3 linked regions of the Homo sapiens genome follow. The protein of the gene in region 1 purifies or fractionates together with the protein of each later gene. This does not show direct contact. Each region holds a gene or a part of one and is shown in the gene's direction. Other genes may lie near its edges. The genes, in order: HPDL, LSM12 and NUSAP1.

Region 1 (3,748 bases):
GAAAAACTTTTTAAAATAAATAAATATTAGAATATGTGGGAAAATAAAATTAATTAAAAAAAAAAACAGTAACTACAATAGCAACAGCTACTATTTACTGAACACTTACTCCACCTCACTTAATCACAACTCTTTGAAGTAGGTACTATTATTTCCATTTTTACAGATGGGCAAATTAAGGCTCAGAGGCGTTAAGCAACTTGCCCATACAGACAGTAAGTGTTGCTGGTGATTCAAACCCAGGTCCGTCTGGCTTTTGGAACTCATGTCCTCACATTCACTGGTCTGCAGAGTAGCACCAAGTACCTTTTACCACCCTGACCAGCTCCTGGGTACTGCCCTCCTGCCTGCAGGCCTGAACACCATGACATCCAGCTAGCCCCTGTCCCCTATGACATCCTTCTCCCTCTTGCCAATGAAACCCAGTAGATCAGGCTGCCTGACAAAAAAATTTCTTGTGATGCCTTGGACTGTGGCATTCATCCTAAATGCCTCCCTAACAGCATGGCCCATTGCTCCTCTAAGAGTCTGGCTCACACTCTTACTGAGTTTTTGCTTATGCCCTTTGCCCTTCTTGGATGCCCTTCCCTAACCCTTCAAGGGCCACTCAGTTGAAGTTCCAGAAGACTACAAATTCCTCAATCCAGTCATCTCACACAATTCTGGGTTTCAGAGCCAGAAGTGCCCCCACCACAGAAATCTCTGGCTCAATGCCAAGTCAGGAAGCTGCAAAGAGCAAGGAGGGCCTGTGTTCCAGTCCTCAAAGGATGGGGAAGGGGAATGACAGCCAGGCAGCTGTTCCTTTCAGATCCCGAACCGTCAGATTTTTCCTCCAAATCTTGCTTGGGACAAGGGGTTAAATGATGTTGACAGAAGGGTGATTGAAGAAAGAGACAGGACTGGTTGAGAGATTGCCCAACACTTTGGGAGGCTGAGGTGGAAAGATGGCTTGAGCCCAGGGGTTTAAAACCAGCTTGGGCAATATAGCAAGACCCCATTTCTAAAAAAAAAAATTATTTTTAATTAGCTGGGTGTGGTGGCGTCCGCCTGTGGTCCCAGCTATTTGTGCACTGAGGCAAGGAAAATCGCCTGAACCCAGGAGGTGGAGGCTGCAGTGAGCTGTGATTGTGCCACTCCAGCCTGGGTGACAGAGTGAGACCCTGTCTCAAAACATATAAACGTGTGTGTGTGTGTGTGTGTGTGTGTGTGTGTATTCCAGGGAACATTAAGACTTAGAGGCAAACTCCAGAACTTAAAGAAAAAACATGAAAGTGCTAAAAAATTCCGTGCTTGTGGAGAGAGAATTCCAACTCTTTCCCTGAACCCGGGCTGAGTCCCTTCGCTGTGAGGTTGGGGGGATGAGTGGGAGCCCAGTGCCTGGCGCCGAGTGAAGGCAGCCATTGTGAGTTCCTGGGCTGGGGAAGGGAGGCTCAGTGCCCAAGGATGTGACCAGGCGTGAGGCCCGGGGAAAGAGCAGCGCGGCGACCCCGCAGTATCCGAGGCGACAGGGTGTGGGGGAGGGGGTGGGGAGTCAAAGGCGGAGTCACGGGCTCCGCCCTCTTTCTCCTGCTTGGCGCGAGCACAGGCACCGCGTGGTTCTCACAACCAGCAGCTCGGCTCACTGAGACCCGGTGGTCCAGACGCTGCTCCTGGCTGGGGTGGCGCTGCAGGGAGAACCGCGAGCTCTCAGGGGTCGGCGGGTGACTTCTTTCCGGAAGAAAGCGAGGAACGCGCTCTGCGGGGTGAGCCGGACTCCCCAACTCCGGACGATCAGCCCAGGACTGAGAGCCCCGAAGTCCCCAACCACAAGTAAGCGGCCCCAGAAGGACAAGTCTAGGTCGCCGTCCAGAGCGCCATGGCCGCGCCCGCCCTTCGTTTGTGCCACATCGCCTTCCACGTGCCCGCCGGGCAGCCCCTAGCCCGGAACCTGCAGCGCCTCTTCGGCTTCCAGCCCCTGGCTTCGCGGGAGGTGGACGGCTGGCGGCAGCTAGCCCTGCGCAGCGGCGACGCGGTCTTTTTGGTGAACGAGGGCGCAGGGTCTGGAGAGCCGCTGTACGGCCTGGATCCGCGTCACGCCGTGCCCAGCGCCACAAACCTGTGCTTCGACGTGGCGGACGCCGGCGCTGCAACCCGGGAGCTGGCAGCGCTGGGCTGCAGCGTGCCTGTCCCTCCCGTTCGCGTGCGGGACGCGCAGGGTGCCGCCACTTACGCCGTGGTCAGCTCGCCTGCCGGCATCCTCAGCCTGACCTTGCTGGAGCGCGCTGGCTACCGCGGACCCTTCCTACCCGGCTTCAGGCCCGTGTCCTCTGCGCCTGGCCCCGGGTGGGTCAGCCGCGTGGACCACCTGACCTTGGCCTGCACCCCCGGCAGCTCCCCCACACTTTTGCGCTGGTTCCACGACTGCCTGGGCTTTTGCCACTTGCCGCTGAGCCCAGGTGAGGATCCCGAGCTGGGCCTCGAAATGACAGCAGGGTTTGGGCTTGGGGGACTGAGGCTTACAGCCCTGCAGGCCCAGCCGGGCAGCATTGTCCCCACTCTTGTTCTGGCTGAGTCCCTTCCGGGGGCGACGACACGACAGGACCAGGTGGAGCAGTTCCTGGCCCGGCACAAGGGGCCAGGCCTGCAGCACGTGGGGCTGTATACGCCTAACATTGTGGAGGCCACTGAGGGGGTGGCAACTGCTGGAGGCCAGTTCCTGGCTCCCCCTGGGGCATACTACCAGCAGCCAGGAAAGGAGAGGCAGATCCGAGCTGCAGGGCACGAGCCTCATCTGCTTGCTCGACAGGGGATCCTGCTAGATGGTGATAAAGGCAAGTTTCTGCTTCAGGTCTTCACCAAGTCCCTTTTTACTGAGGACACTTTCTTCCTGGAGCTGATTCAGAGGCAGGGGGCCACTGGCTTTGGTCAGGGCAACATCAGAGCTCTGTGGCAGTCCGTACAGGAGCAATCTGCCAGGAGCCAGGAAGCCTAAGGATGCCCAGGGCTGGGTGCAGCCAGCTGTCCTGCAGCTCTGGGGAGACCAGCACAGAACTGAGGAACATCTGCAGGAGGCCCAACTAGTGAAAGGCTTTGCCTCCGGGGGGCAGGTGTGACTTCCATTTCATCAGTGCCTGCCAGAAGCTGTGTCTCTCATTGGGCTCCAAAGAGGTGGGATTTTTTAAAACTAAAACATTTCTTATATACAGTCTATAATAAATATGTAAGATACAAAGAACAATAAAAGAATTACACACTAGGAAATAGAACATAACCAATACTTTCGAGTCCTCCCTGTGTCCCGCTGTGATTCTATTTCCTCCCACCCACTCCTCAAATCCTGTCATTATTAGCCCTTTGCTTTTCTGTATTGTTTCACTCCGTATGTAACATAACCCTAAATAAATTATTTCGTATTTGAGGTAGGAATTTAAAACAGAACAAATCTTCTCCTGTGCTTCCTCTCCCCCTAGGGAGCGACCACTCAGGTGGGGAGGGGCTGGGTGAGAGTTGAGCCCAACTACCTACTCCAGAGTGATGCCACCACTCCAATTAGAGCTGACCTGAGACGTAAACAGAGGGTGTTGTGTGTCAGCCACTGGCAGGTTCTCCCTGTAGCTGCCTTGCCTTTCTCCTGGGGGTTGGAGGGCAGATCAGTCTGGACAGAACACCCCCACTCCAACCCCATCTGCCCGGGGCTGGCTGGGAGTTCAGCCAGAGAAAGTCAGAACCAAGCAGAACGTCACCACTTTTCTGGGTCCCTCCCTCAGAT
Region 2 (3,648 bases), on another chromosome or scaffold:
TACAAAATTAGCCAGGCGTGGTGGTGCATACCTGTAATCCCAGCCACTTAGGAGGCTGAGGCAGGAGATTCGCTTGAACCCTGGAGGTGGAGGTTGTGGTGAGCCAAGATTGTGCATTGCATTCCAGCCTGGGCAACAAGAGCAAAACTCCGTCTCAAAAAAAAACATTTTGTCACAGCAGAAGTCATTTGACTCTCCACTAGCTTCCCTAGCTGCTGAAAAACTGGAACATTTGACACCCCTCTCCACCCCGCCTCCCCCCACCCCACACTGCCATCTGTTACTCTGTTTAACCACCCTGGATCTGGTGCACAGATGGCAGCTGGCATCAGAGCTGTTTGAGGCTGTGGTGTGAGTATCTGAACATTTACAGGTATGTGAAGGAACTCCCAGTCGCATCAGCTGCCCTGGGGCTTCCCAAGTGTGAACTGGAATGGGTTTTCCCAGTCTGGCAAGTGCCCAACTGTCTGATAATTGAGAAGAGCCAGTCTGAAGAGCAGCTCCCATTATGGGTGATAAGGGTCAGAGTACAGATCATAGGAAGATGGGGAGTTTGTTCTCTCTCTCTTTTTTTTGAGTCGGAGTCTCACTCTGTCACCAGGCTGGAGTCCAATGGTGCAATCTTGGCTCACTGCAATCTCTGCCTCCCAGGTTCAAGCGATTCTCCTGCTTCACCCTCCTGAGTAACTGGGACTACAGGCGCGCAGTCCCACGCCCAGCTAATTTTTGTATTTTTAGTAGAGACAGTTTCATCATGTTGACCAGGATGGTCTCGATCTCCTGACCTCATGATCCGCCCACTTCGGCCTCCAAAGTGCTGGGATTACAGGCGTGAGCCACTGTGCCTGGCCTTTCTTTTTTTTTTTTTTTTTTGAGACAGGGTCTCACTTTTATTGCCTAGGTTGGGAGTGCAGTGGTGCGATTTTAGCTTACTATAGCCTCAATCTCCCCGGCTCTGGTGATTCTCCCACCTCAGCCCCCGGAGTAACTGGGACTACAGACGCATGCCACCACTACCGGCTAATTTTTTGTATGTATTTTTAGTAGAGACGAGTTTTTGCCCTGTTGCCCAGTCTGGTCTCGAACTCCTGGACTCAAGCAATCTACCCACCTCGGCCTCCCAAAGCGCGGGGATTACAGGTGTGAGCCACCGCGCCCGACCTGTTCTCCTGTCTTTCTAAAGGTGGTATTTCTCCCTAGGCCAATGGTTGACAAACTATGCCAGCAGGCCACATCTGCTCATCTGTTTTACCTATTGTCCATGCTACTTTTGTACAACTATGGCAGAACTCAGTGCTAGTTGTAACAGATGATATGGACTGCAAAGCCTAAAATGTTTGTTACAAGACCCTTAAGAGAAAAAGTTTGCCAGCCTCTGCCCTAGGCTGCTATCTTAATTTGGATTCTTGAGGCCACTATCACATTTTTATGGCTCTCCAGATCTCTGATGCTTCAGAGTAACAATTTCTGGGCTCTCCCAAGAATAAATGTGCATGAGTTTCATTGCTTTTCTAGCCAGTGGCACCCAAGGAATGTTTCTTGGCTACTATATGGGCTGCTGGCATCTAGTTGTTGGCTGAGTGGTGAGCTGGGAACTTGGGATCAGCCTTCTGGAGTTATTTATTCATCAGACAGGAGATGTGGGATGCCCCCAAGAGGTTACATTTCGCCTGCTGTCTTCTCCTTCCAGCATTAAAGACTGTAAATGGCAAGAAAAAAACATCGTAGTCATGGAAGAAGTTGTTATTACACCCCCATATCAAGTGGAAAACTGTAAAGGCAAAGAGGGGAGTGCACTGAGCCATGTACGCAAAATAGTAAGTAAAGGAGCCTTCAGACTTTAGGGGAGAGAGGATGGTTCCTCAGGCCTTCAGTCTTTAGCACCAGACCAGGACATTGTGCTACAGTCTCTGCCTCCTCTAGCAGCAGAGGCCCTGTCTGGCCTCCCTGCCTTCCCTGTACTGTGGGGTTCTGCAGTCCTGTGGGAATGGAACCACTGGGTGGTGTGGAAAGAAGTGAGTGGGTGACCCTATGTCCTTTGCTGGCTTTTTGGAATTAGGAAGACTGTTCCATGGTATTGGGCCTGAGCAGTTTCTCTCATCCCATATTGAGTTTTTCTTTTTTAGAGACAGAGTCTCGCTCTGTCGCCCACGCTGGAGTGCAGTGGCGCGATCTCAGCTCACTGCAACCTCCGCCTCCCGGGTTCAAGCGATTCTCCTGCCTCAGCCTCCCGAGTACCTGGGACTACAGGCGTATGCCACCACACCCGGCTAGAGATGGGGTTTCACCATGTTGGCCAGGCTGGTCTCGAACTCCTGACCTGAAGTGATCTGCCCACCTTGGCCTCCCAAAGTGCTGGGATTGCAGGTATGAGCCACCACGCCTGGCCCCATATTGGGTTTTTCTTAGCTGCAGGTACCATTCTAGAAAGATCTGGTTGGTATAAATCAGTTGCCGTCGGTGTCTCTGACCCTACATATGTCACTGGACTTAGCATTTGTTAAAACAAACTTAAAAAACACTCCTGCTTTTTTTTTTTCCTCTGAGGAACATTGAGAGACCAACATTGTAGATGTAGGAGGTTTGATAAGACTGTAATTCCCCCAGCAGCTTTTCATTTTGTACTTGGGTATAGAAGAGAGGAGGAGTTTAGGTCATGATAATCTCCCCTTATTATATTTTATAGTTTAGTTTGTAGATTCACCTTCTTCTAGCCAATCTTAGTGGAAACTGCAAAAAAATGTGGCTGAAGCAGGAGGCCCTGGCCTACCTTGTGGTTGGGAAGGCCAATAGACAGCAAGGGCAAAGGTGCCTGGACACCAATGGGCTGGACAGCCAGGATGGGGCTGTGGAAACCTGGGTTGGATTGTTTGGGAGACCTTTCTTCCGCATCTCCTTTGTTGACCTGGGTTGCCTGGTCTTTTTCAGGTTGAAAAACATTTTAGAGACGTGGAAAGCCAAAAGATACTGCAACGTTCACAAGCCCAGCAACCACAGAAGGAGGCTGCCCTGTCATCCTGAGTCCGTACACATGGAGGACTCTTCCAGCATCCAGCCAAGGAGGCGCTGGTGGTGGCTTCAGCGGAGGCAGGCCGGGGGAGGGAAGGGATCCTATATGTCCTGTTGGCTCTTAACAAAGGGTCAGCATTTCCAAATCTTAGACTTGAACAAACAAAACACCCAACAAAAAAGAACAAGAGAATAATTTAAAAGTTGAATCATTACTTGACTAACAGACTTCGGTCCACCATGTCCTTTTCACAGCCCTCTTCTGGAACAGTCACCTTGTTAATTTTATTTTTGAAAATTATTTTCCCACTCTGCCCTTTACTTCTGACTTTCCTTTCCTAGTTTGTTCCTGCCATTCTGTTTTTATAAGTGGCTACACTTGCCTTCTGAATGATTGAAAGAAACTTTTACATCTTTTCTTCCAAAATAAAAGTAACAAGCTGACTGTGATTCTTAAATTGAGACCAGAGCAGCAAACGTCTCACTTTAAATTTTTGTTTTCTTTTCCTTTTTTTTTCTTTTTTCTTTTTTTTTTTTTTTTTGCACAGGGCATGGCTTGAATTAGTTTTATTTTTCTTAACTTTAAATATATATATGAAAATATATATTAAAATGTTCTCTAAATATTTTCTGCTTCTT
Region 3 (3,648 bases), on another chromosome or scaffold:
TGGGAAATATGAGTGTTTATTACATTACTTCGACTTTTCTTTTTTTTTTTTTTTTGAGACGGAGTTTCGCTGTTGTTGCCCAGGCTAGAATGCAACGGCATGATCTCAGCTCACTGCAACCTCCACCTCCTGGATTCAAGCAATTCTCTTGCCTCAGCCTCCCAAGTAGCTGGGATTACAGGCATGTGCCACCATGCCCAGCTAATTTTGTATTTTTAGTAGAGACAGGGTTTCTCCATATTGTTCAGGCTGGTCTGGAACTCCTGAACTCAGGTGATCTGACTGCCTCAGGCCTCCCAAAGTGCTGGGATTACAGGCGTGAGCCACCACACCCAGCCTACTTTGACTTTTCTATAGGCCTGACTTTTTTTCTAATAACAATTTAGGGGAAGAAATTAATTTTTTTTCTATTTTTTTATTTTTTTTGAGACAGACTTTCGCTCTTGTCACCCAGGCTGGAGTGCAGTGGTGCGATTCCGGCTCACTGCAACCTCCACCTCCCAGGTTCAAGTGATTCTCCCGCCTCAGCCTCCTGAGTAGCTCAGACTACAGGTGCCCACCACCACGCCCAGCTATTTTTTGCAGACATGGGGTTTCACCCTGTTGGCCAGGCTGGTCTTGAACTCCTAACTTTGGGTGATCTTCCTGCCTCGGCCTCCCAAAGTGCTAGGATTACAGGCATTAGTCACTGTACCTGGCTGAAATTCATAATTTTTGCTGTGGCCTTTACCTCTCTACTTGACCCAGCCTCTGGTCACATCTCTGATCTCCCTGCCCTCCATATACCTCAGTGTTCACCATACTTCTACCATAAGGGCAGTTTCTGTCTTTCAACTCATGAGTCCACCTCAGGGCTCCTGTTCTTGGCGCTCGCTCTGCTCGGAGTGCTCTTCACCTGCTGCCTCTTTCCTCATTCACATCTCGGGAGGCCTTTCCCAGCCATCCTAATTCAGGTAGCATCCCCACCCCACCCCAGTTGCCCAGTTTTATTTTTGCATCATAATACCTGACGTCATATCATTCATTTCTAGCTTTCTTGGGTAACTGTTTCACCTCTGCTAGAAGATCCTGGAGGGCAATCACCTTGTCTGTTTAATTAATCACTCTCTAGTGTCTGGAACAGTGCCCAGCACAATAAATGCTTGTTGAAGGAATGCATGAATATATGCTGATAACTAACATCTGCACCTTCAGCACAACTCTTGAACACCACCTCATATCATTCAACCTCCTCACTGGGTTCTGCCACAGGTGCCTCACTTCATGCATTTTTGTATGTTTGGTGAGATTTTGAAGGTATATTAAGAGAGTATTAGAAAAATCAAGAATGCCTGAATTCTGCCCTGCCAATCATCCCCTTCCCAGAGAAAACCTCAAGGGTGGTTCAAGGAACAAGTAGAAAATAAGGTACCACTTTATTACTAGCTGAAATAGTGCCTGATATCTTGATGCAGAGCATTCTGGTAAAGTGGATTGGAGACTGTGGCTTAGGCTTGCACCACAAGCAAAAGCTTGAGCACAAACCAAATTTCAGGATCTCTGCTATTCTCTACTGGACACATGGCCCATGATAAAAGGCATGAGAAGAATAGAGCCAAGCCTGGTGGCTGGGCCCACCTTGAGAAGGATGGCTGTGGCCCTCAACTGCATGGCTGGGTGGAAGAGGAAGAAAAAAAGAACCCAACCAAAAAACTTGACTTTTGTTTTTTAAACGGAGTCTTGCTCTATCGCCCAGACTAGAGTGCAGTGGCATCATCTCCTCGGCTCACTGCAACCTTCGCCTCCTGGGTTCAAGCAATTCTTCTGCCTCAGCCTCCCAAGTAGCTGGGACTACAGGCACACACCACCATGCCCGGCTAATTTTTGTTTTTTTATTAGAGACGGGGTTTCACCATGTTGGCCAGGCTGGTCTAAAACCCCTGACCTCGTGATCCACCTGCCTCGGCCTCCCAAAGTGCTGGAATTACAGGCATGAGCCACCCCGCTCAACCAAACTTGACTTTTAAAGCACAGGAAAATGTAACCAATCAAATTAACATTGTTCTTTCAGGAAAGAACAAGAAGGGAGGTTTTCCTAGGCTGGGAAGAGAAGCTCAGTGTTCCCTTCCCCCGGCAGAGACCTACAACCATCCCCCTAAGACCCCGTCACCTTTTGCATTCCTCATCTTAGGGACCGTACCACACTTCACCAGCTGTCCAAGCCAGAAACGTTGGCATAACAAAGTTTCCCTCTTCCTCAACTCTCATGTTCACACTGATTTCACTTCCTAAGAAGGTTTTGACTTCATCCATACTGCCTTAGCCCCGCTCCAGTTCAGGCCACAGCATTTCTGGCTCATCCCCATCAAATGCATCTTGCACATTGTGCAGGTAGACTACTCATTCTGAGTAATGCAAAATTGGTCACCCACTGCCTTGCTGCAAACTCTTCAGAGACTGCCCTTTTCTCTGAGAGTAAAGTTCATACTCTTTAAAGGCTTACAAGGCCTGGTAACATCACGGCCCTGCTCACTTTCCCAACATTGTCTCTTACTATCTCCTACAAACAGGTCCATGTTCCAGCCACACTGAACTTAAGTTCTTCAAACTCCACCCTCATTGTTGCCTTGCTGTGCCATTCCTCTACCTCTTTCTCTACCTTCTCTTCATCCTTCAGATCTCAGCAATTAGAGACATCACATCTTTATCTGAGAACTGCCCTGTGCAGATACTTGCTGAAGTCTAACCTAGCAGTCCCAACTTTGATGGCCATGCCTACCTATGTTCTCATGACAGCCTGAGCCTCCTAGCGTGGGCATTTACCCCACTGTATTGCAATTGCCTCTTTCCTTGTCTAACTTTCCCACTCAGATGTGAAATTCCTTAGAGCAGAGACCCATTCTTTCTAAGTAATGGTTCTAGTCCTATGGTCTGACCAGAGTACATTTAATGAATACAAGAACAGCAAAAAATATTCAACGTATCTTCCTTGTTTATTTGACTTTTGGCTCTAATAATAAGGTCTCTCTTGCAGGCAACCAAGTTGTTAAAAGCCTTGAAAGGCTACATTAAACATGAGGCAAGAAAAGGAAATGAGAATCAGGTGAGTAATGTTTTTCATGTTTACCTGTTAGCTAGCAAAATAATCATATTTGGTTAATGGGCAATTAACACACAACTAGTGATGATTTAAGACATGCTGTTGGCCAGGTGTTGTGGCTCACGCCTATACTCCTAGCACTTTGGTAGGCAGTGGCAGGCGGATCACTTGAGTCCAGGAGTTCGAGACCAGCCTGGCCAACATGGTGAAACCCCGTCTCTACTAAAAATACAAAAATTAGCCAGATGTGGTGGCGGGAGCCTGTAATCCCAGCTACTCAGGAGGCTGAGACAGGGAGAATTGCTTGAACCCGGGAGGTGGAGGTTGCAGTGAGCCAGGATCGCGCCACTGTACTCCAGCCTGGGTGACAGAGCAAGACTCCGTTCAAAAAACAAAAAAAAAGATATGCTGTTTATTAAAAAAGAGATCATTATTGGTAATAGTGCCAAGGACTGAATCCTTTCAGATTAACTATCTGCTGTTGTGAATGGTGAAACTGTTTTGCGCCAAGTAATCTGTTGAATAACATGTTTTTACACAGATACAAAGGCTGAGTACTAGTTGCCAAG

What was found.
Region 2: the proteins of HPDL (region 1) and LSM12 fractionate together in Homo sapiens (co-fractionation; one large-scale study listed by BioGRID). This does not show direct contact.
Region 3: the proteins of HPDL (region 1) and NUSAP1 fractionate together in Homo sapiens (co-fractionation; one large-scale study listed by BioGRID). This does not show direct contact.

The regions. Positions count from the first base shown.
Region 1 is NC_000001.11:45,325,294-45,329,041, forward strand, and holds HPDL (4-hydroxyphenylpyruvate dioxygenase-like protein), read left to right. Parts: upstream 1-1,601; 5' UTR 1,602-1,855; coding exon 1,856-2,971; 3' UTR 2,972-3,417; downstream 3,418-3,748. UniProt on the Homo sapiens protein: Iron-dependent dioxygenase that catalyzes the conversion of 4-hydroxyphenylpyruvate (4-HPPA) to 4-hydroxymandelate (4-HMA) in the mitochondria, one of the steps in the biosynthesis of coenzyme Q10 from tyrosine.
Region 2 is NC_000017.11:44,035,581-44,039,228, reverse strand, and holds part of LSM12 (protein LSM12), read left to right. Parts: intron 1-1,044; coding exon of another isoform or gene 1,045-1,140; intron 1,141-1,690; coding exon 1,691-1,817; intron 1,818-2,126; coding exon of another isoform or gene 2,127-2,324; exon of another isoform or gene 2,325-2,367; intron 2,368-2,928; coding exon 2,929-3,021; 3' UTR 3,022-3,648. UniProt on the Homo sapiens protein: Nicotinic acid adenine dinucleotide phosphate (NAADP) binding protein. Confers NAADP sensitivity to the two pore channel complex (TPCs) by acting as TPC accessory protein necessary for NAADP-evoked Ca(2+) release.
Region 3 is NC_000015.10:41,339,373-41,343,020, forward strand, and holds part of NUSAP1 (nucleolar and spindle-associated protein 1), read left to right. Parts: intron 1-3,013; coding exon 3,014-3,082; intron 3,083-3,648. UniProt on the Homo sapiens protein: Microtubule-associated protein with the capacity to bundle and stabilize microtubules. May associate with chromosomes and promote the organization of mitotic spindle microtubules around them.